Homo sapiens: one gene and its partners. The main gene of each other region encodes a partner of the protein of the gene in region 2 in a complex. Each region holds a gene or a part of one and is shown on either strand. Other genes may lie near its edges.

What was found. Proteins that work in one complex are often made in the same cells at the same time.
Region 1: INTS6 (region 2) and INTS1 share a complex: the UniProt entries of both Homo sapiens proteins name them as parts of the integrator complex.
Region 3: INTS6 (region 2) and INTS12 share a complex: the UniProt entries of both Homo sapiens proteins name them as parts of the integrator complex.

Annotation. Positions count from the first base shown.
Region 1 is NC_000007.14:1,500,737-1,510,488, forward strand, and holds the start of INTS1 (integrator complex subunit 1), read right to left. Parts: upstream 3,654-9,752; 5' UTR 3,587-3,653; intron 3,266-3,586; 5' UTR 3,225-3,265; coding exon 3,167-3,224; intron 2,456-3,166; coding exon 2,165-2,455; intron 1-2,164. UniProt on the Homo sapiens protein: Component of the integrator complex, a multiprotein complex that terminates RNA polymerase II (Pol II) transcription in the promoter-proximal region of genes.
Region 2 is NC_000013.11:51,372,991-51,381,744, reverse strand, and holds part of INTS6 (integrator complex subunit 6), read left to right. Parts: intron 1-2,172; coding exon 2,173-2,283; intron 2,284-3,290; coding exon 3,291-3,506; intron 3,507-5,570; coding exon 5,571-5,697; intron 5,698-6,948; coding exon 6,949-7,091; intron 7,092-7,305; coding exon 7,306-7,537; intron 7,538-8,754. UniProt on the Homo sapiens protein: Component of the integrator complex, a multiprotein complex that terminates RNA polymerase II (Pol II) transcription in the promoter-proximal region of genes.
Region 3 is NC_000004.12:105,681,474-105,685,790, forward strand, and holds the end of INTS12 (integrator complex subunit 12), read right to left. Parts: intron 1,845-4,317; coding exon 1,260-1,844; 3' UTR 1,154-1,259; downstream 1-1,153. UniProt on the Homo sapiens protein: Component of the integrator complex, a multiprotein complex that terminates RNA polymerase II (Pol II) transcription in the promoter-proximal region of genes.

The DNA.
Region 1 (9,752 bases), on a different chromosome or scaffold from region 2:
GGCCCTCTCTCCGCACCCACCCCAGCTCCAGTCTCCAGCATGCCCTTCTTCCCACTTTTCCTCCCTCTTTCCATGGGTGCTCGGCTCACAACCTTCCTCCAGACGAGTGCCTGACCCTCCCACATCCTCTGAGGAGCACCAGGGCCAGCACACACCTTTCCTATCGTCGTGTTTGCCACTGTTGGATCGGAGGTTTTCTCATTTTCATTCTGATTCTTCTCTGTCCCAACAGTTTTTTAGGACTGTGTTTTTAAATATCCACAAACGGCCAGGTGCAGTGGCTAGCACCTGTAATCCCACCACTTTGGGAGGCTGAGGCAGGTGGATCACCTGAGGTCAGGAAATCGAGACCAGCCTGGCCAATACAGTGAAACCCTGTCTCTACTAGAAATACACAAATTAGCCAGGCGTGGTGGTGCATGCCTGTAATCCCAGCTGCTTGGGAGGCTAAGGCAGGAGAATCATGTGAACCCGGGAGGCGGAGGCTGAAGTGAGCCGAGATCGTGCCACTGCATTCCAGCCTGGGGAACACAGCGAGACTCTGTCTCAAAAAAAAATAAATAAATAAATAAATAATAAATAATAAGTAAATACATATCCACACACATGTGGACAGAGGCATTGTGATCTACCTTAACTGCGCCCGGGACAGAGACTTGGAATAAATTTCCTGATGCCGAGACAAGCTGGGGGACAAGTGGGCTGCCAGCATGGAGGGACAGCCTGGGACATTTACCACAAATGGCTGGATGCAGCCATCTCTCTGTTTTGCTGAGAATAATACTATAAAGTGATCTACCACTCAGAATACGCTTTTCATAACCACGTCTCCTCTCATCTTCAAAACCTCCTTTCTACAGGAGGTAGTGCTAAAGATAAATAAAGCACCGAGCCGCCGGCGGCCGAGAGCCCGGGCCAGGATGAGGCCTGTGGTCTCTGTCTTCAATCCCCACCGGCACCAGCTGCCCAGGGACACGCCTCATGGGAGGTCTGAGGCTCGACCTCCTAAAGCAGTCCCCCAGCTGTGCCATCCTGGGCCGTTTGCCCCCAGGGCTCCCTGATGCCAACTGAGTCCAGCACAAACACTGCCCACAGCGCCCAGCCTCAGCTCTCATGAGCGTGTGCTGCCCAGGCCAGGCCAGGCCTCCATTCCCTGGGCACAGTCCATTCTCTGCTTGGCATCTCCCTTTCCTGCCTGCCCCGGTTTCATCGCCTGTGCTTCCAGGCCCAAGCCCATACTGCAACTCCCTGCCAGGCCTCCTCCCTTCCAGGGCCGTCGGGGACTCACTCACAGGCTTGCACTGCAGCAGCCTGGTCCCTCCCTGAGGGCAAGGCCACAGCCCACAAGTCCCCTGGGTCCTGTCTGGCACAAAACTCAGTAACCAGAGGTGGCGCGGCTTGAACAGACACCTCACTACCAAAGTCATCAGGACACTTGTTCTTTTTGACTCCTACAAAGAAATTACCCAAAAGAGATGCTCCCACAGAAACAAAACACTGCAGACCATGAGGCTTGCTGGGGCTGGTGCGATAGCTGCCAGAGCGACTCCCAGGGAGTCACGGAGCCTTGAGAAATGGTCGTTGGGAAAATGGCGCAGAGGGGCAGGGGCGATTCTAGGCACACAGTTAAAGGCATTTCTGCGAGAACGGGACAGTGGTGAAGCTTACATTCCCCCGTTGATGTCCTTACTGTTCTGCTGCTTTTCAACTGAAAACAGGGAGGGGATCAACTCTTCTCTGTTGGTAACCAGGAGGGAAGGAGGAACCAAGTACACATCGCCTCCGCTCAGGTTGAGAGAGGAACGCACCAGGATGGGCAACCTTGAGAACAGACACCTGGGGTGTCGTCACGCCCGGTTTACCCCCAGGGCTCAGACAGTGCCCGTCACAAAGGGGGCGTCCAACAGACACATGAGACAAACAACTCAATAAGGGAGTGACCCGGTTCTCAAAGGGCAGCCACTGGCAGTGCAGGACGCAGATGCACACACGGGATAAGGGCATCTACGTGAGAAGCACTTCCAAGAACAAGCCACAAACATCCGCTCTCCCAAAGGACCTCGGCCATACGGGCAGCACTAGGCCTGGAGGGGGCCTTCCCTGAACACCTGATGGACGGCATGAGCTGAGGGGTGTTCTCGGGGGATGTCCACAGACTCATTACCTTCAATTGGCACCACAGATGGCTCTTTAATCGACGGAGAAATGGCTCGTTTTTCTGCCACTGCAGCCTCAGCCAGGCGCCCCAGGGCACTCAGAGGGGGTGTGGAGGAGAGTTTGGGGCGTTTGGTGAGACCGGTGAGGGCCGAGGCACTGGACAACGCGGCCGCCGCATCCCGCTTGCGCTCAGAAGGCAGGCCGGAAGGGGCTGGCTTCAGCAGGGTGGACGCCGTTTTCGATTCATTGGCCTGACCCTTTGAGCCCAGAGCAATGAAGTCTCCTGGGGGAGGGTGCCCTGCAGAGAAAGGAGAGAGAAAACCGGGCACATTTGCAACACCCAAGATGGAAAAAGACTGACTCTAACCTCCTGTTATGTCAGAGGGGATTAAACAAGGGTCAGAGGAGGCAAGGAAGAAGCCAGAGCTCACTCAGCAGCCTACAGCAGAGCTGGGACCAGCAGGATACGCACAGGTGATGGTGGACAGTCACGTAGCGCTAACCACAAACCAGGCCATCTCTGGTCTATCCAAATTAGTGTGCTTAGTAACCCCCGCCCCGAGTTTCCGCAATAGGTGCTATTACTCTAACTTTACAAGAGAGAAAGGGACACAGAGAGGTTAAGCGACGTGCCCAGCGTCACACAGCAGGCGAGTGGCAAAGTCCGGAGGATCTGAGCCGACAGTTCAGCCGCAGACCCCGTGCTACGCTACACTGTGCTGCCTCCCGCCTCCTGGCTGGGGAGACCTTCCGCTACTGTCGGCCGCCTTGCAGCTCAGCCTGAAACGAGATCACCGGGGTCCCGAAGGAAGTCGCCACTGTCCCAAGCCTCCCAGGGACTCTCAGAGCCGCTGAGGACCGAGAGCAGTGTTTCCAGACCGAATTCCTGGAAACAGCCGCGGCTGCGGAACAACCAAGCCCAACGCAGGATCCGCGGCAGCTGAGATCCCCAAAGACCCCCAAAGACCCCCAAAGACCCCCGGGCTGCAGAGCGAGGAGGGAGACGCACCTGAGGGTTTGGCCGCGGCGCTGGGCCGGCGCACCGTGGTGGGCTTGGCCCGGTTCATCCTGCCCCGTCCCTCGCGGCTCCCGGCGGCTGCGGCGTCACCTGCGGAGGAGCCAGCGTGCGGTCATTCCTTCACTCATTCGCTCGTTCGCTCGCTCATTCGCTCCCTTGCCGCACGGGGCTTGGGCCTGGGACCCGGGGACAGTGGTCCCGCGCCCGCCCGGCGGGGCGATGCTGCAGGAGCTGCAGGGACCCCGCCTCCCAGCCGCCCGGGAGCGGCTCAGTCGGGCGGCAGCAGGCGACGCGGACGCCGGGCTGGAGGCGGCAGAACCAGAAGGGACGGCCCAGAGGCCGGGAGCGGTAGCCGGGAGAACCAGGCGCTCGCCCGGCAATGAGGAAGCGCCCAGGCCGCGGCTCACTTACCTCTGGCCCATCGCGACCGGAGCGCCGCCGCCGCCACCCGGCCACCCCGGAATCGGAAACCGATCTCACCGCCCTCGAGGACCCGACTTCCGGAACAACCGGAAGGAAAACAGTGCGGCGGGAAGCGGGCCCAGAAGGAGGCGCGAGAGGCCCGCGGCGCCGGCCTGATGCCTGCAGCGCCCCATGGCGGCGGGAGGCGGGCTGGCCGGCGCCGCGCGCATGTGGTCCGGTCCAGGTGGGTCGGCGGCGCGGGGCAGGCGCTGGCCTCTCCATTCACAGGTGGTGCTGGCGTTGCGAAGGGACGCACTCCAGGACGCACGGCGGGGAGGAGTGGCGTCAGGGATCCGCGGATGAGTCAAGTGGCAGGTTCTGCACGTCCCGGAGAGCGGGGGCGGCCGGGGCGCAGGCACTGGCGAGGGGGCGCAGCCCGGGGGGCTCCCGGGGAGAGACCCTGTCTCAAATAATAATAATAATAATAATAATAGCTTTATTGAGATAGAACTCGTGTTCCACAAAGTTCACCCTTTTCTTTTTTCTTTTTTTTTTTGGCACGGAGTCTCGCTCTGTCGCCCAGGCTGGAATGCAGTGGCGCGACCTCGGCTTATTGCAACCTCCACCTCCCAGGTTCAAGCGATTCTCCTGCCTCAGTCTCCCGAGTAGCTGGGATTACAGGCGCCCGCCACCATGTCTGGCTAATTTTTTTGTGTTTTTAGTAGAGACGGGGTTTCACCATGTTGGCCAGGCTGGTCTCGAACTCCTGACCTCAGGTGGTCCGCCCGCCTTGGCCTCCCAAAGTGCTGGAATTACTGCGCCCGCCCCGCCCCCACGCCTTTTTTTTTTTTTTTTTAATGGAAACACTGATGGGAACAAAACTCAAAAGACACAAAAGATCATACAGTTGCCAGGTGTGATGCTCATGCCTGTAATCTCAGCACTTTGGGAGACCAAGGCAGGAGGATCGGTTGAGTTCGAGACCAGCCTGAGCAACATAGCAAGACCCCCATCTCTACAAAAAAATAAAAATTAGCTGGGCATGGTGGCATGAACCTCTAATCCCAGCCCTTTGGGAGGCCAAAGTGGGAGTCTGAGACCAGCCTGGGCAACATAGTGAGACCCTATCTCTACAAACAAAAATCAAGAATAAATTAGCCAGGCATGGTGGTGCATGCCTACGGTCCCAGCTACTGAGGAGGCTGAGGTAGGAGGATCTCTTCAGCTTGGGAGGTCAAGGCTGCAGTAAGCTATGATGGTGCCACTACGCTGCAGCCGGCCGACAGAGCGAGACCCTGTCTAAAAAAAAATAAAAATAAAAGGTGGGGGAATCATCCAGTCAAAGGGTCGAAGGTCTCCCCTGACCCCTGAGCAGCTGGTCCCCTCCCCTGGAGTCAGCCTGTGTTCTGATTTGTGCCTGTGTTCCCGGCTTTTCCGTGTGCGTTCAGGCAGCCACCCGTGTGCCTCCCTCTGCCTTGTCACCCTGCAGGTAGCGCACGGCTCCTCTTTTCTGCACCTGGCTTTTGCCACTTAACCACATCTTGGAGATCTGTTCCCAGCAGGGCACTGACTCGAACGCTGCCCCGCCACCGAGGGAGTCCTGAGCACCGCCTGCCCGGTGTGTCCCATCTCCTCATCCAGGGACCGCAAGGCAGAGCTGGTCTCCCTGTGCCCCTGAAGTTGGGTGTGGCCATTTGACTGTGGCCTCAGTGAGGCTCATGGCCCCAGGCTGCAGCCTGAGAACTGCTGTGTGACCCGCCACGGTCTCTTTCCACTCCTGTGGGCACCAGCTGGGTCCCCGCAGGACCCCAAGGGCTCCAGGGCCCTGCACCCTGCGCTGTGTGGGCAGCGAGTCCGGAAGGAGACGTCCGTGGTGCCCATGGGAGGAGAGGCCGGTCAGGCGCGGATCCCTGCCGGACGCCAGGCGGGGGCTGTGCGGCTTCATCCCTCTACAGTTTCTCAATCTGTCCCTCAGGGTAACTCTCTAAGGGGAGGGGAGATCCGATGGGGTAATGCTTCCTCCTCCTGTCACCTGAATGGGAGCACCCTGCACAGAGCTTCCTCTGCCCCGCCACCTGCCTCTCCTCATCCTCTGACCAGCATCACCGCCCCTGCATGCGGGGCCTGTGCCTTCGGCAAATGCCCTCACCCGGGCCCAGGCCAGAACCTCAGGGTCGACCTTGAGAACAACTACCTCCTCCTCCCCCTCCCCCTCCCCCTCCCCCTCCTCCTCCCCCTCCTCCCCTTCCTTCTTCTCCCCCTCCTCCCCCTCCCCCCTCCTCTCCTCCTCCCCCTCCCCCTCCCCTCCTTCCCCTCCCCCTCCTCCCCCTCCCCCCTCCCCTTCGTTCCCCTTCTTCTCCTCCTCCCCCTCCTCCCCTCCTCCCCCTCCTCCTCCTCCTCCTCCTCCTCCTCCTGTCAACCTTGACCACCTCTTCCCCCTTCTCTCTCCTCCTGCTCCTCGTCTTCCTCGTTCTCTAAAAACTCAGGAGTCAACCTTGACCACCTCCTCCTCCCTCTTCTCTTTCTCCTCCGTCTCCTTCCCCTCTTCCTCTTCCTCCCCCTCCTCTACCTCTTTGCCTTCCTCCTCCCTCTCCCCGCCTCTTTTTGAAAACAGCTTTTTTGAGTTATGATTGACGTCTGATAAACTGCAGGTGTGTAAAGGGTGTAAAGGGTGCACACTGATGCGTGTTGACATTCACACGTACCTGTGGCCCCATCCCCCATCCCTTTCAACCCTGTAACGAACATTCCCAAACCACCCCTGACTTGTCCCCAGGCCGCCAGGGCGCCACTTTCTGTCCCTGGAGAGGCGCTGTTTGCTCTTCTGGAGTCTGTGTGAATGAAAGCACACAGTGCACGCTCCCTGGCCAGCTGCTCGGCGTCATTATTCTTTTTTTTTTTTTGAGATGGAATCTCGTTCTGTCACCCAGGCTGGAGTGCAGTGGCGCGATCTCCGTTCACTGCAACCTCTGCCTCCTGGGTTCACGCCATTCTCCTGCCTCAGCCTCCCGAGTAGCTGGGACTACAGGCGCTGGCCACCACGCCCGGCTAATTTTTTTTTTTTTTTGTATTTTTAGTAGAGGCGGGATTTCACCGTGTTAGCCACAACGGTCTTGATCTCCTGACCTCGTGATCCTCCCGCCTCGGCTTCCCAAAGTGCTGGGATTACAGGCGTGAGCCACCGCGCCCGGCCTGGCATCATTATTCTGAGACTTACCCCAGCGTTGCAGGCATCGGTGGCTTCTGTCAGCTGCTGAGTAGCACCCGCCAGATGGATTCCAGATTCCAAGGATGGCTTCTCCACTGATGGCCCGGGCAGGACCACAGGCGTTCCGTCATCCTGGGGGGGTGTGCAGGGTCTGCCCTGTGCTCTTCATCGGCGTCTCCCTGATGAGTAATGATGAGCGTTTTCTCATCTTTTTTTGTCATCCGTGTATCTGCATTATTGGTGTCTGTTCAAATTGTTTGCTCACTTTTTGAAAATATTTTTTATGGCCAGGCGCGATGGCTCACGCCTGTAATCCCAGCACTTTGGGAAGCCGAGGCGGGTGGATCACCTGAGGTCAGGAGTTCAAGACCAGCCTGCCCAACATGGTGGAACCCGGTCTCTACAAAAATACAAAAATTAGCCGGGCATGGTAGCAGACACCTGTAATCCAGCTACTTGGGAGGCTGAGGCAGGAGAATCACTTGAACGTGGGAGGCGGAGGTTGCAGTGAACCAAGATCATGCCATTGCCCTCCAGCCTGGGCGACAAGAGTGAGACTCTGTCTCAAAAAAAAAAAAATTATTAGAAATTTAATTTTTAGGCCGGGTGCCGTGGCTTTTAATCCCAGCACTTTGGGAGGCTGAGGCAGGCGGATCACCTGAGATCAGGAGTTTGAGACCAGCTTGGCCAACATAGTAAACCCCATGTCTACTAAAAATACAAAAATTAGCCAGGCGTGGTGGCGGGTGCCTTTAGTCCCAGCTACTTGGGAGGCTGAGGCAGGAGAATCACTTGAACCCAGGAGGTGGAGGTGGCAGTGAGCCAAGATCGTACCACTGCACTCCAGTCTGGCCAACAGAGCGAGATTCCATCTCAAAAAAAACAAAAAAACAAAAAGATATAATCAAATGTTCCTCCCCTGCTCAGAATTCTCCAAAGACTCTGCTTATCACCCGAACAGTAAAATGAACACCTGTGGTTGTTTCCCACAGCAGCTCTTAACAAAGCACCACAGACTCGGTGGCTTAAAGCCACAGAAATGTCCTCTCTTGCAGTTCTGGAGCCCAGAAGTCTGAAGTCAAAGTGTGGGCAGGGCTGACTCCCTCGGAGGGCTCTAGGGGAGGACGCTGCCTACCTCGACCAGCTCCTGGGGACTCCAGGGGTCCTCGGCTCGTGGCCACATCCCTCCAGCCTCTGCCTCTGACTCCATGTGGCCGTCTTCTCTCTGTGTCTCTGTGCCTCGTGAGGACATCTGTTAAGGGATTTAGGGCCCACCCAGATCAAGGATGATCTCATCTCAAGATCTTTACCTTCATTAGGCCTGTGCGGTGGCTCACGCCTGTCATCCCAGCACTTGGGGAGGTTGAGGCGGGCGGATTGCTTGAGGTCAGGAGTTCGAGACCAGCCTGGCCAACATGGCGAAACCTTGCCTTTACTAAAAATAGAAAAAAATTATCCAAGGCCGGGCGCAGTGGCTCACACCTGTAATCCCAGCACTTTGGGAGGCTGAGGCGGGCGGATCACGAGGTCAGGAGATCGAGACCATCCTGGATAACACAGTGAAACCCCATCTCTACTAAAAATACAAAAAAATAGCCGGGCGTGGTGGCAGGTGCCTGTAGTCCCAGCTACTCCGGAGGCTGAGGCACGAGAATCACTTGAACCTGAGAGATGGAGGCTGCAGCGAGCCAAGATCGCACCATTGCACTCCAGCCTAGGCGACAGAGCAAGACTCCATCTCAAAAAAAATAAAATAAAAAAATAAGTTTATATCTGCAAAGACCTTGTTTGCAAATAAGCTCCCATCCTGTGGCTCCGGTGGACGTGGGCTATGGGGCCACTGTTCGCCCCGTCCCAGCCCCACGCCGAGGACTGCCGGGTCCTGCAGGGTCTACATCTCCGTCTCACCTCCCCCGATGCCGCCCCACCCCGCACCTCAGCCTTCTCACTGTTTCCGGAAGGTGCCTGCCTTTCCATGCGCTGTTTCCTGTGCCCAGAAACCCCCCAGCTGGTCCTGGGACTCCCTGTCCACCCCATTCTGGTCTTTGCTCAAGTGGCCTCCTTCTCTGGTCAGTCACTGATGCCCCAGTCCCCTGCACCTGGATGTCACCTTCATGTCTTTTTTTTTTTTTTTTTTTTTTGAGACGGAGTCTCACTCTGCCACCCAGGCTGGAGTGCAGTGGTTCAATCTCAGACCACTGCAACCTCCGCCTCTGGGGTTCAAGCGATTCTCCTGCCTCAGCCTCCCAAGTAGCTGGGATTACAGGCACCTGCCACCACGCCTGGCTTTTTTTTTTTTTTTTCTGAGAGTCTTGCTCTGTCGCCCAGGCTGGAGTGCAGTGGTGTGATCTCTGCCCATTGCAACCTCCACCTCCTGGGTTCAAGCAATTCTGCCTCAGCCCCCATCAGGAGCTGGGATTGCAGGCGCCTGCCACCATGCCCAGCTAATTTTTGTATTTTTAGTAGACATGGGGTTTCACCATGCTGGCCAGGCTGGTCTCAAACCCCTGACCTCAGGTGATCTGCCTGCCTCGGCCTCCCAAAGTGCTGGGATTACAGGCGTGAGCCACCACGTTCAGCCACATCCAGCTAATTTTTATATTTTTAGTAGAGATGGGGTTTTGCCATGTTGGCCAGGCTGGTCTTGAACTCTTGACCTCCGGTGATCCACCCACCTCGACCTCCCAAAGTGCTGGGATTATAGGCATGAGCCACCGCGCCTGGCCCTTCCTTCATGTCTTTTAAAAAAATGTTTTAGAAACGGGGTCTTGCTCTGTTACCCAGCTGGAATGCAGTGGTGTGATCATGGTTTACTGCAGCCTCAAATTCCTGGGCTCAAGCGATCCTCCTGCCTCAGCCTCCCAAGTAGCTGGGACCACAGGTGCACGCCCACCCCTGGCTGGTCTTTTCCCTGCCTTCCTGCCTGACAGAGCCACCAGCAGAGCCTGATCTGCCCAGTCCCCTGCT
Region 2 (8,754 bases):
CCTGGGCAACAAGAGCGAAACACCGTCTCCAAAAAAAAAAAAACAAAAAACTTGTTAATTATATTATGCTTATGGTTTATTGTGGGTATTATAAACTTTTATTTATTGCTTTTATAGATTAAATGACATGAAAATTGAGCATACAGATGACCACTATAGGTATAAAGGTAAAGAGAGGTTTCAGTGATTTGCAGAGTAGTGATGATGATCATGATCATGAGAACATTTATGTACTGCTTACGTAGGCCAGGTACTGTCCTAAGCAACATCATTAATTTATACAGTTACCCTATGAGGTAGAAATGATTATTGGTTCTGTTACATAGATGAGGAAACTAAGGCATTAAAAATTAAATAATTTGCACAAGGCTACATAGCTAATATGTGAGGGGATGAGGAGCCTGAAATTCAGTCTGGCTTAGATTTAGGCTTTTAACCTCGAGTGTTGTACTACCTTTTAAAATTACAGTTTTATGATTATAGTTGTCTCTCAGTATCTGTGAGGGATTGGCTCCAGGCTCACCTGTGGACACCAAAAGTCACAGATGCTCAAGTCCCTCATATAAAATGGCATAGTATTTGCATATAACCTACACACATTCTCTTGTATACTTTAAACCATTTCTAGGTTACTTAATATGTATATACTTTTATACTGTATTGTTTAAGGAATAATGTCAAGGAAAAAAGAGTCTGTATATATGTTCAGTACAGATGCAACGATCCATTTTTTTTTCCTAACGTTTTCAGTCTGTGGTTGATTGAATTCACAGAATACGGAATCCATAGATATGTAGGGCCGACTATATTTATTTTTAAGGGTGCACAATAGTTTTTGTTGTATTATTTCCCAAATCTCTAGAAACACTTTGTAAGGTGGATAAGTGTATATTCTTATAGAACCATATGCTTTAGAGGACTTGATTACTTCAAAATAGTGTATCATAGTAGGTAAAACCAATAATGTGCATTTTATTAAATACATGATTTAGTTTGTGAAAGATAACTTTTTAACAAAAGTACTTAAAATCACTTATGTATTCTGTTTTGATGCAGGAATATTATAGCATTTGGCTATAAATAATCTTTCTAAATCATCCCTAATATAATTAGGAGATTAATTTCTTGAGCTTTAAAAATCATGACATTTTATAGTTCTAACAGATAAGTTGTGTTGAATGTCTAGCACACAGTGCCTGGCAAGTAGAAGGACAAAAAAGAACAAACACTTCGAACAGGAACTGTTACATATGTTGACTCATTTACGTTTCATAGCAACCCTGAAGATTTAGCCAAGCCAGATAGGTGTTAAATATCAGGGCTGGGATTTGATTTCAGTTTGACACCAGTGCTTATACACTTTCTAATATGTCAATGATTATCATCCTTTTTCTGGCTCTATCCGATTCACAAATGCTAGACACTCTTGCTAGTGATATTTTTCATCGTATAAAGTACTTCTCAGTCTCTCCTTACAATTGAAAGTTTTTTTTAACTTTCAACTACCACATCCATAATAAATATTAGATTGTTTTTTCCTCCTGCTTATGTTTCCTTCAGAGCTTTTTTTCAGCTCAGCATATGATAATAATAGTAATGATTAATAATTTGTACCCAATGGTTTTATAAAGTGCTTTATGTGTATTAACTCATTTAATCCCATGACAACCCTGTAAGAGTAGGTATTGTTATTATCCCCATTTTACAAATGAGAAACTAAGCCACAGAGAGCCAGAGAGCTTATTTATAATCTGATCTAGAATCATATAACTAGTGAGTGGTTGAGCAGCTAATTACTCAAAAGTAGAAATCTTGCATTTTCCTTGAGTGTTTTTCACTTACTACCCATGTTTTATCAGAGCTACCTCTAGAATGTGTCTTCTGTCCATTTATTCCAAACCTAGTTTCTCCCAGTGGTACCAAGGAAGACCAGTATCTTATCCTTCTTGTCTTGGGGAGTTATTATGGCCTCTAATCCTTTTTAACTACTTCAAACGGCCTTTCATCCCACTGACAAACATTTTACTGAAACATAAATACGATTGTGTTACTTCCTTATTGAGGAAAAGAAGGGGAAATAATTTTTTGGAGAAAATTTTAAGACAGACTATACATGGAACCATAAGTTTTTAATAAGCTTAATATTGAATGATGTTTTCTTTTTTCCTATAGCCCTTGAAGAAAGCTGTTAGGATGATGGGAGCACCTAACCTAATAGCAGACAGTATGGAATATGGACTTAGTTACAGTGTCATTTCATACCTCAAAAAACTGAGTCAACAGGTAATATCAAGAAATAGAGTGAGCCATTAAGTATTTTGAATGGTTTTGGCTAGGATGGTTAAACAGGTTAAAAGCTAGTTCTTGATGGTTCTAATGGAATTCCATTATATTAATATATTACATTTTAGAGCCATATATTACATAATTCTGTCTCACATCCATGGTGTGCTATGTTTTGAAACATTAATTTGAAAATTATATAATAATTCCTAATTTATGAAAATGGCTTCATGAGTGTGGTCCTAGACTTGCTATATGTGAACATTATTTATCTTTTGAGAAATTTAGATTAGAAAGTCATTTTTCCTTAAAAAAGAAAAAAAAAACTCTTTATGTTTTGAAACCTGCAGATTTTTCTTTCAGAATGGGAGTTTCTTTGAAATGTTTGTAGAAAACACTGAATTTTGTCATTCTGGCCATAAGTCACATTAATAAATACTATAGTAGTCAAGCAGTATATAGTTTAACTGACTGTGAAATTATTAATGTCCTATGAAATACATTATTTCTCCAGTACTTCTGACATTGCTACCTTAACTACAAATCAAAAGGCAGTTTGGGAGGAGTCAAAACATTGCTTCTTGCTTTCCAGGGAAGAACTGCATAATTATTTGCCATATTGATGTGCTAGTAAAAATGTCTTACATAATGATGATTTTAAAAAAATAATTTACCGTCACCCCTGAATTGGGAATACACATTTTTGTTTAGTGTGCATTTATATTTCATGGTTTAGGTATAGTGGGTATTAATAAATAAAATAATAAATTGAAATTGTGTTTGTCCTGCTCCAAAAGTTTAGAGTTGTAATGATTTAAAATCATAAGACATTGTTGTTTAAACTATGTTTAATTTACCCAATACTTGACATAAACTATGCTACTTGAGTTTTTAACTTCTTATATACTTAAAAAATATATATTTAATTTATAGAAGATCATAACCATTAGTATCTGATTTATTAATTTAGATTTTATCAAGATAATTCTGACTTATTTTTACTTTAGGCCAAAATAGAATCTGATCGAGTCATTGGATCTGTAGGCAAAAAAGTAGTACAGGAGACTGGAATAAAAGTCCGGAGCCGATCACATGGTTTATCAATGGCATATAGGAAAGATTTTCAACAACTCCTCCAGGGAATTTCAGAGGATGTCCCTCACAGACTGCTAGACCTTAATATGAAGGAATACACTGGGTTCCAAGTTGCTTTGCTGAATAAGGTAATAATCATGAATTTAGTGCTACTCTAGTTATGTTCTGTTATGTTACTGGATAAATCACATTTTCTGTTAACTCTGACATTCAGTTTATCCAGACTTTAAAGAGTACTTCTGTACTCTTGTAGACTAATGATCATTATACTGTCACTGCTAGAATTAAAACAGTGTACATGGTGTGTGAATGAATGGATAGATTGATGAAGAGTAAACTAACTTGTTTATTTTATAGATGAGAAAACAGAGGTTTAGAAATTGCTTTAAGTTGCAGTAGTGGATGGTAGAATTCACTATAGTTTTGTACTTAAACTGATGACCCTATTAGACCCACAGCATGATCCAAAAATGCTTTGTGAGTACTCATGGTTACAGATATCTTTATCCCAGCAGCCTTTTTGTAGAAATAGGCAAGCTGATTCTAAAATTTATATGGAAATGTAAAGGTCCTGGAATAGCCAAAACAATTTTAGAAGAATAAAGTTGGAAGACTTATATCATCTGATTTTAAAACTTATTGTAAAACTTACTACAGTGATCCATGCAGTGTGGTGCCATCATAAGGATAAACATAGGAGATTAGTGGAACAGAATTGAGTCTAGATGTAGGCCCTCACACACACAGTCAATTCTTAACAAAGATATTAAAATAAGGTAGTGGATAAGAAGACAGTCTTTTAAACAAATGGAACAATTGGATATCCATATGCAAAATAATGAATTTGACCATTACCTCATATTATTTGAAGTGGTCGTGATCTTAAATGTAAGAACAAAAACTATAAACTTCTAGAAGAAAACATAGGAAAAAATCTTTGTGATGTTGAGTTAGCAAAGATTTCTAAAAGCACATAGCAAAAATGTTGATAAATTGAATTTCATTAAAATAAAAAATAAACTTTGCTCTTTAAAAGAAACATTAAAAATGAAGAGGGAAGCTACAGCTTGGGAGAAAAGCACATATCAAATAAAGGACTTGTATCAAAATATATAAAGAATTCATATAACTCAATAATAAAAGGACAAACATGGGCAAAATATTTGAACAGACATTTCACCAAAGAAAATATGCAAATACAAATAAGAACATGAAGTAACACTCAGCCTTATCAGCCATTAGGGAAATGCAAATTAAAACCATAACGAGATACTACTTCATAACTGCTAGAATGAATAAAATTTAAAAGACAAAAAATACAGGGATTGATGAGAATGTGGAGCAACCCTCCTAACATTACTGATAGAAAATAGTTGATATTTTCTTAAGAAGTGTAAACATAAATTTGCTGTACAATCAGTCATTCTACTTGTAGGCTTAGCATGCCAACATGGCAGCATTTTTCATAATAGCCAAAAACTTGTAACAGTCCAAGTGCCCATCAGCTGGTGAATAGATAAAGAAGATGTGGTGTGTCCATATAATAGACTACTACTCTGGAATAAAAAGGAACAAACTACTGATACATGAATAATGTCAATGAATCTCAAAAACATCATGCTAATTGAAAGAAGCCAAGTACAAAAGATTAGACGTTGCAAAATTCCATTTATAAAATGGAGCATAGAAAGAAAGCAAGTCACGTGGTTGCCTGGGGATAGGAATAGTGATTGACTGCAAGTGGGTACAACAAACTTGGGGATGGTGGAAATGGATTATGATGATGGTTTCACAACTATAAATTTACTAACATTCATCAAACTATATACTTAAAATAGGTGATTTTATGGTATATAAATTACACATCAAAGCTGTTTTTTAAAAAACTTCAGTTTTTAAAATTTGGAGATTGATTTTTACTTAAATGAGTTTACTTCTTTTATCCAGAATATATAATAAAATCTTTAGAGTTAGATGGTGAATTGAGATTGTTTGGTTGAGCTCACTACCAAATTTTCATCTTTTGGCCCTGAACCGGTACATTAAGATTATATCATATGTCTTTATTTTATTTTTTTTAAGCTAACCAGTTTATATATCTTATTTCCAAACCTATGCTGCAGGCTAGAGATTTTAGTCTCTTGTAATTCTATGTTTGACAATAAATTTTGTCCTCGAATGTTGTTTAATAGGATTTGAAGCCACAGACATTTAGAAATGCTTATGACATACCAAGACGAAATCTTTTGGATCACTTAACAAGAATGAGATCTAATCTTTTGAAGAGCACTCGCAGATTTCTGAAAGGACAGGACGAAGGTTAGAACATAGTTTCAATACTGGTATTTTTAATTTTTTTTCTTTATAGTCTGAAAAAGCATAGCATGGTGATGTAAATTTCAAAGAATTATTACAGTACTATAACATTCTTATTGTAAGTTCAAACAAATGAAGTAAAAGGTGAATCATCCCTGATTCTGTACCTTTCTTCCTACCATCACTGTTGCCCCAAATTCTCTTCCCTAGAGGTAACAACCTTTCTTAACAGTTTAGTTTCCTTTTATAGCTTTTCTCATGCATTCATGCGCGCACGCGCGCGCACACACACACACACACACACACACACACACACCCACTTATCAAACTGTATACTTAAAATAAGTGATTTTTCTTATCTCAATCATTTTCTTGAGATAATACCAGTATCTGATGGTTTAACTCTGGATGGCCAGTTTCATGACATTTTCTGATAATTCCTTCTTCACCTTTATCCATGGCACCTACTATAAATCAAGTCAGATGAGACTTTAAACGTTTGCCACCTCTGATTTAAGAGTTCTAACAATAATTTTATATAAAAGAGTTAGCTATGCGACTTTTTTTTTTTTTTACCATACTGTACTTCCATTTTCTACAAATTCTACTATAATTAAATTCTGTTTATTTGGAATAGCGCAGAAGAGAAGAGATACATCTTTCACGGTAAGATCACACATACTTTTTTTTTTTTTTTTTGAGTCAGAGCCTTGCTCTGTCGCCCAGGCTGGAGTGCAGTGGTGTGATCTCGGCTCACTGCAACCTCCGCATCCTGGGTTCAAGCGATTCTCCTCCTTAGCCTCCCTAGTAGCTGGGATTACAGGCACGTGCCACCATGCCCTGCTAATTTTTGTATTTTTAATAGAGATGGGATTTTGCCATGTTGGCCAGGCTGGTCTCATTCCTTACCTCAAGTGATCCGGATGTCTGCCTCAGCCTCCCGAAGTGCTGGGATTACAGGCATGAGCCACTGCGCCTGGCCACACATACTTTCTGTATGTGTGGAATTAATGGCAATGTATGTATGTGTGAAATTAATGGCAATTTTTGTTTTGTTTAGATGATGAGATCAGTATTTTAAATTTTATTTTAAAATATTTTGTCGCAGTGGTTATAATTGCACCAAACAAATTTAGAATATGTTGGTAAAGAAGACTGTCTAGAATAACACTAGGTAGCATTCATATATAAGGAAACATTATTTGAGAACTAATTGGAGGTTAACTTTTTTTGCTGTTGTATTCTTTTTGAAAGATCAAGTGCACAGTGTTCCTATAGCACAAATGGGGAACTACCAGGAATACCTCAAGCAAGTACCTTCTCCACTAAGAGAACTTGATCCTGATCAGCCACGAAGGTTGCATACATTTGGCAACCCCTTTAAGCTGGATAAGAAGGTAATTTTGAAATGTTCTATTATGTAATTTGTTTATGGTAGGCACTGTCAGTTTTATAGTTCTTAATTTAACTGAAGTAAGCTGAAGCTATTTTCCTGGTAGAGTATCTAATAAATATGAACAGAATATAGTTACCTTCATTGGAATTGACACTGGTTGTGCCATTTAAACATTGTTTGTAAATTCAAGAAAGTTGTATTCTTTTTTGCTAAAGGGTATGATGATAGATGAAGCAGATGAATTTGTGGCTGGACCTCAAAATAAACATAAACGACCCGGAGAACCAAATATGCAAGGGATCCCTAAAAGACGTCGGTGTATGTCTCCACTACTAAGAGGCAGACAGCAGAATCCTGTTGTAAACAATCATATTGGGGGAAAAGGACCACCTGCACCTACAACTCAAGCACAGCCAGATCTTATTAAACCTCTTCCTCTTCATAAAAGTAAGAATTGTTTTTTTCTTAAACATTATTTGCTGCCTTTTGGTTCCTTTTCAAGGAAGATATTTTTGTTATAGATTATAGAAGGAAATTGATTAGTAGTACAATGAGTGAATGAATGTATAGAAAATTTGTTTAAATGAGCATGTAATCATTTTTGTATGTCTTTTTAATGAACATTTGAACATTTCTTATTTATGATGCTTTATTAGCTATTATGTTCTAACATACATTTGCAAATCTTTCAAAATAATACTTTCGAAAGGAGCATTATCACTATCCACAGAAAGATGGTTTTCAATTTCAGTTGAAGTCAACTAATTATTAAATATGTATGCTATTTTGGATAATGCTGTGCTTTGAGGTATACCACTGAAGACAGGAGTGATCTCTGCCCTCATTTATAATCAGCAAGGAAGGTCAGTCATTGAACAGATATTGGAAGTATGTTGAATGTTACGAAAAAGATGTCAAGTATATTCTGGAAGCATTTGGCAAGAGGATTTAAGTCAATGAAGTCAAGGCACTTAACTGAAGAAGTTAATGCTTAAGCCAAAAGCTGTGCCGTTTGCTTATGCTGGAGCAATAGTATGTGCAGAGGCATAAAGAGAAAGACATTAAGGGAATTTAAAAAATTCCAGTATAGCAAGGGTGTTGGGAATGAGGTAAGGTGAGAACTGAAAGATAGAAGCCAGATTATGGAAGGTCTTGGAAGCTATTTTCAACTTTATTCTAAGGACAGTGAGAATCCACTGAAAGGCTTAAAATGATGGTGACCTAATCTGATTAGCATTTTATGAAGACCAGGTTGACTGTAATGTGTGTGGACTATTATCAGAGAGGAGCAAGAATGAATGTAGGGAAACCCTAATGAATTAATGGACTTATCAATTATATATAGTGGTCATACTTACAGCATGTTAACTGAAGGGAAACAAAATATTATATGACTCCTGATGGAAGTATCCAATACTGCCTTTGAAGTTGTCTTACCCAAAAAAAAAAAAACCAAACACCAAAATTGAACATCAATGTAATCAAACCAATTTATAGGAAATACAGGGGACAGAGAAACATGTGGGATACCGTTAGTAAAATCCAGATTGTAGAAAACTCTACAGGACAAAGAATCTGTTGGGTTTTTTTCCTGGAAAAAAAATATTTTTTCCAGAAAAATAAAAGGGGTACGGAAGGATTTTACAGATTCAAATGTAGTTTAA
Region 3 (4,317 bases), on a different chromosome or scaffold from region 2:
TGTGAATGTGTGAATTTGTTGGATATCCAGTTTTTTTGCTGTGAATAATAAACTGTTTCTCTGATGCAGAGGGCTTCCTATCTTCTCTCAGAATATACATGTACAACAATTGCTGGTTAATTTGTTAGCTTGCAAGTAAGACAACAACGCAGACCTTCCACATTTTCTGACTTAACCCACTTATGCCTAGTGTTCCATTATTGCAATGCTCGGCTTATAGAGTTATTTATATCCTACTGTTCAAGGTCATCATCAGGTCTGATTTTTCACCAAAAAAATTTGCAACCTCTGGCATAAATGGGTTAACAATGTACAAAACAATCTCAAGAATTAATCATTATATAGGAGCTTATTGTATACAAAGTTAGCTAAAATTAGGTAAAGTGCTATAACATTTTGAGCACTAAGTAAGATAGCCTTTTCTTTCATGGTATAGGAAGAAGCCATCAGTGTGTGAACAAGTCATATATTTCCATCTGCAAAGACCTTTGTGAAATGGTATTTTTCTTCAAAACTTATCAGGAATGTGCATAACCAAGATGAATCAAAATTCAACATTTATTACGTACTATGTGCATGTATTACATTGGCAATGTAGGAAAAGTGAGCAATGTGAGAAAAAATATTGTATTAAGCACCAGGAGAGTTCACAATTTATTGGAAAAAGATATACCCTTAAATAATTGAAATGAGGTGATAAAAAAGGTAAAGATATAATATGAAGTATGATAAATCAATTAGGAAAATCCATTGATATGAGAAATCAATAATGAAAAAATAATTTTGAAAAAGATGAAATAATTGGGAGGGAGAGGGAGAGTCAGTTGAAATGGGGCTAGCACAGAAAATGAACACCCAGAATACGGGGAGGAAAATAGAAAACTATGTTGGGTCGTCCCTGCCGCCACATAAGGCACCTCATTCATCAGGATCAACTCTTGGGGCTTTGCTAGAAGATGAACTATTTCTTTTTCCTTAAATTCACAGATGCTTTCAATCTTCTGAAGATCTCATTGAGAACCAGTCATTCTAATCATTGTTTTCACACACTATGGAAATCATTAGAATAAAAATGTTGAAGATTGATTTAAAATGAAAGTTTCCAAGTTTTGTTATATAATATTTAGCATTTTAAGGTAAGAAACAATAGAAATTTGATTATGAAGACTTTTATTAAATTACAGTGTATTACAGATTATATCATAATAATAAGCCTTTCATCTTTAGGCTAATATGATACAAAAACCTACTTGGCCACATTACTTCTTGAGTTTCTTTTGGGCAGCTTTCTTCTTGACCATCTGTAATCGCTTCATAGCATTGAGCTGTGATTCTTGTGAAGTTGGGCCTTTAAGGGATGCTGAGGGAGAGCTGCTGGATTCTGAAGTAGTTTTGCTGGTAGTACTTCCACTAGGTCCTGATGTTCCACTATTTCCATTCCCACTTAGTTGGCTGCTGCTTCCTGGAACTAAACTACTTGGACTAGGAAGACCTACTTTGCTGACATTGTCACAACTAACTGAGCGACTAAGGCCAGTTTTACCCAAGGTTAGAGGTGGAGGTGGTTTTAAAGGTACAGTGGGCGTAGTGCTGTTATTGGAACCTATTTTGGAACCTATTCCACCTTTGGATGATGTTGCCAGACCAGTCAAACCCACAGGTTTCTGGTTAGCTGACGAAGTAGCAGGTTTCCCAGTATTGTTTTGTGTTGTTGAACTCAATTTTGCTGTTGAAGGACCAGCAGAGGAAGTTTTGGCTGCAAAAGCTGCCCATCCAGTTAAGCCACTAGTTACTGACGAGGAAACGCTGGCACTAGAAGAATTTCCTGAAATAACTGTGGATGTCTAAAAAAATAAAGTAAATAATTACATTAGAGCCAAGTTTAATCAGTACCTGTATAAACATCCCAAGTTATGAATTGGGAAATTTAAATCACACCACCAAATTAGGTTCTTATGAAGCTGATCTGAAAAACCACACAGAACAAAACTTATCTGTATCTAGTGGGTATTATCATTTGCAAAGCAGAAAATTTTTGATACCATATTCTTGTTCTAATGATTCCAAAAGAAAATATATGAAATTCCTTTTTGGGAATTGCTTTTAGATTCAATTCTAAGCTATATCTGAAAACCAGATTTAGTGCTTTAACATAGTTTTTACCCAACAAAGTATTATCGACCTTAGTTAAACATCTAATTCTTTTAGACTTTTCTCCAAATAACTAGGGATCATTTCAAAAATTTAATTCACTCTTAATAGCAAAAATGCCCATACCCAGAATATTCAGGAGAACATATCCAAGATGAAGAGATTCAGTCAATATTTATTTACTGAGTGACTGTGTGAGAGAAAGAAGACAGCTGTATAGATTCTAAACCCATTAAAAAAAAATGTCCTCCTAAATTTTGAGCAACAGTTACAGGAGTACAAAATATATGCAAAGTTAATTACTTGGAAGTGTACAATTTTTATGATGTGTTAAAAAGTTCTCATGATTTTAGTTTCACAATTTGCCCATGATTCCGGTTAAACTATCATGTAAGAGTCTCCTGCTCCTTTAATAAGGATTTTATCAATTGCCTCATTAGGCTGCACAGTGACATTTTGGGTAGGACTGATCTCATTCTCTGATATATTTCATAAGGGTATAACACTTCAACTTCTCTGATTAACTTTCCTGGCTAATCAGAAGCTCACAATGGTACCAATGCCACTATATAAATACATATTGCTCTTGTTCACACAAGAATATATTTTTTCACTTTCATATTAGGCACAAATGTACGTATTCAAATTAATTTTGAATTGAACTTCTTATTGACACCTTTTCTACCTTTATACTCTTAAGAAGATTCACAAAAGCATTACATTCACATATAGGTAAAAGATAAAATTTTACAAAATAACATCCTACTTAAAAAATGGTAGTTATTATACCTAAAATATATCCAGTTATAATTTAGAACTTTACTCTGAAATAGTTGATAAAACATTTTTAGCTCTTGAAATCAAGGTAGCCTTCAATATTGTCTGCATGCATACATTTTTAATCAATGTGAAAAGTAACAAAAATAGAGTTCTGAGATATTCGATTTATAAGAGAAGGAATCCAGATATTTGTCCACATACTCTGAAAATTGATAGGAAGTTTTCTTACAGTAACATATTAACTATCTTATGAAGTTATCCAGAGAAGAAAAACTACATAAACCATTTATTCCTAGAGGAATATATACCAGCAATGAGAGAAAAAGTTAGTCAAGAAGTAAACCTTTAATTTTCAGTTATGAAAGACCTAATTTTTTTTCCTTTTCTTGCTATTAAACATAAAACTGTCTGCCATATGGTTAAATGATCTTTCAAAAAACTTCACAAAAGAAAACCCACCTTTAGTAATTAAAAGACCAACACTTAGGAAGTACAAGCAAGAAAGCATGTTCTATGTGTCTGGCATTTCATTTTAATGGCTTGCTGTTGCTTAGTATTGCTTTTCAACAGGATGACAGATGGTTTATAATACTATCAGGACACATAGAAGTAATATAACACAAACAATGGAGACCAAGTGATTTCTTACTATTTCAGTGTAGAAAACAAATTTCTCAAGTTTTTAACTATAAATATTTTCTTGCCTATTTGCTAGATGGGCAAGTTAGAAAAGACATTTGCTTTTTATATGTGAATGGGAACAATTTTTTTATAGTATAAATTTATTCACTTTTATAAAAAGTGAATTTTTTATTAAAGAAACACAAAACCTCTTAATCAAAACAAATATGACAGCAGTCTTTAATTTGTTTGCCATAAAATGATTTCATGTTGAATTTTCTAAAAATAAACTTTAGTAGTAACAGATTAATCTAAAAATCTACTAAAAAGTGATTATATGCAGAATATAGCAACTCTAATTACTTTCAATAAACTGGTTATTCTTACTTCTATTCCAATTCACCAAGTTCCTATATGACAAATCAATAATGGATATGCCTTGGATAGCAAATCTTCCCTGGCAAATTAAAATGAAAAATAATCTCCAAATATAATTATCAATAAGTTTTTAAAAGTATTTCGTATTCATATTCTTTTTCATCACATCAAGGGTATGAAGCTTACTACTTACAGTCACTTAGATAAGGCAATAACTTTAGAGTTTTCTCAGGTCAATCTTTGAGAATTTGAGGCTATTTTTTTTTTAATATTTTTTCTTCCATATTTAGTGCTATGCTTAATATTGGAATGTGTACCTCAGTAAAAGTATTCTTTTTGTTATGAAATTAGATTAGAAAATTATTTTTTTCCATGATATAAAAAGGC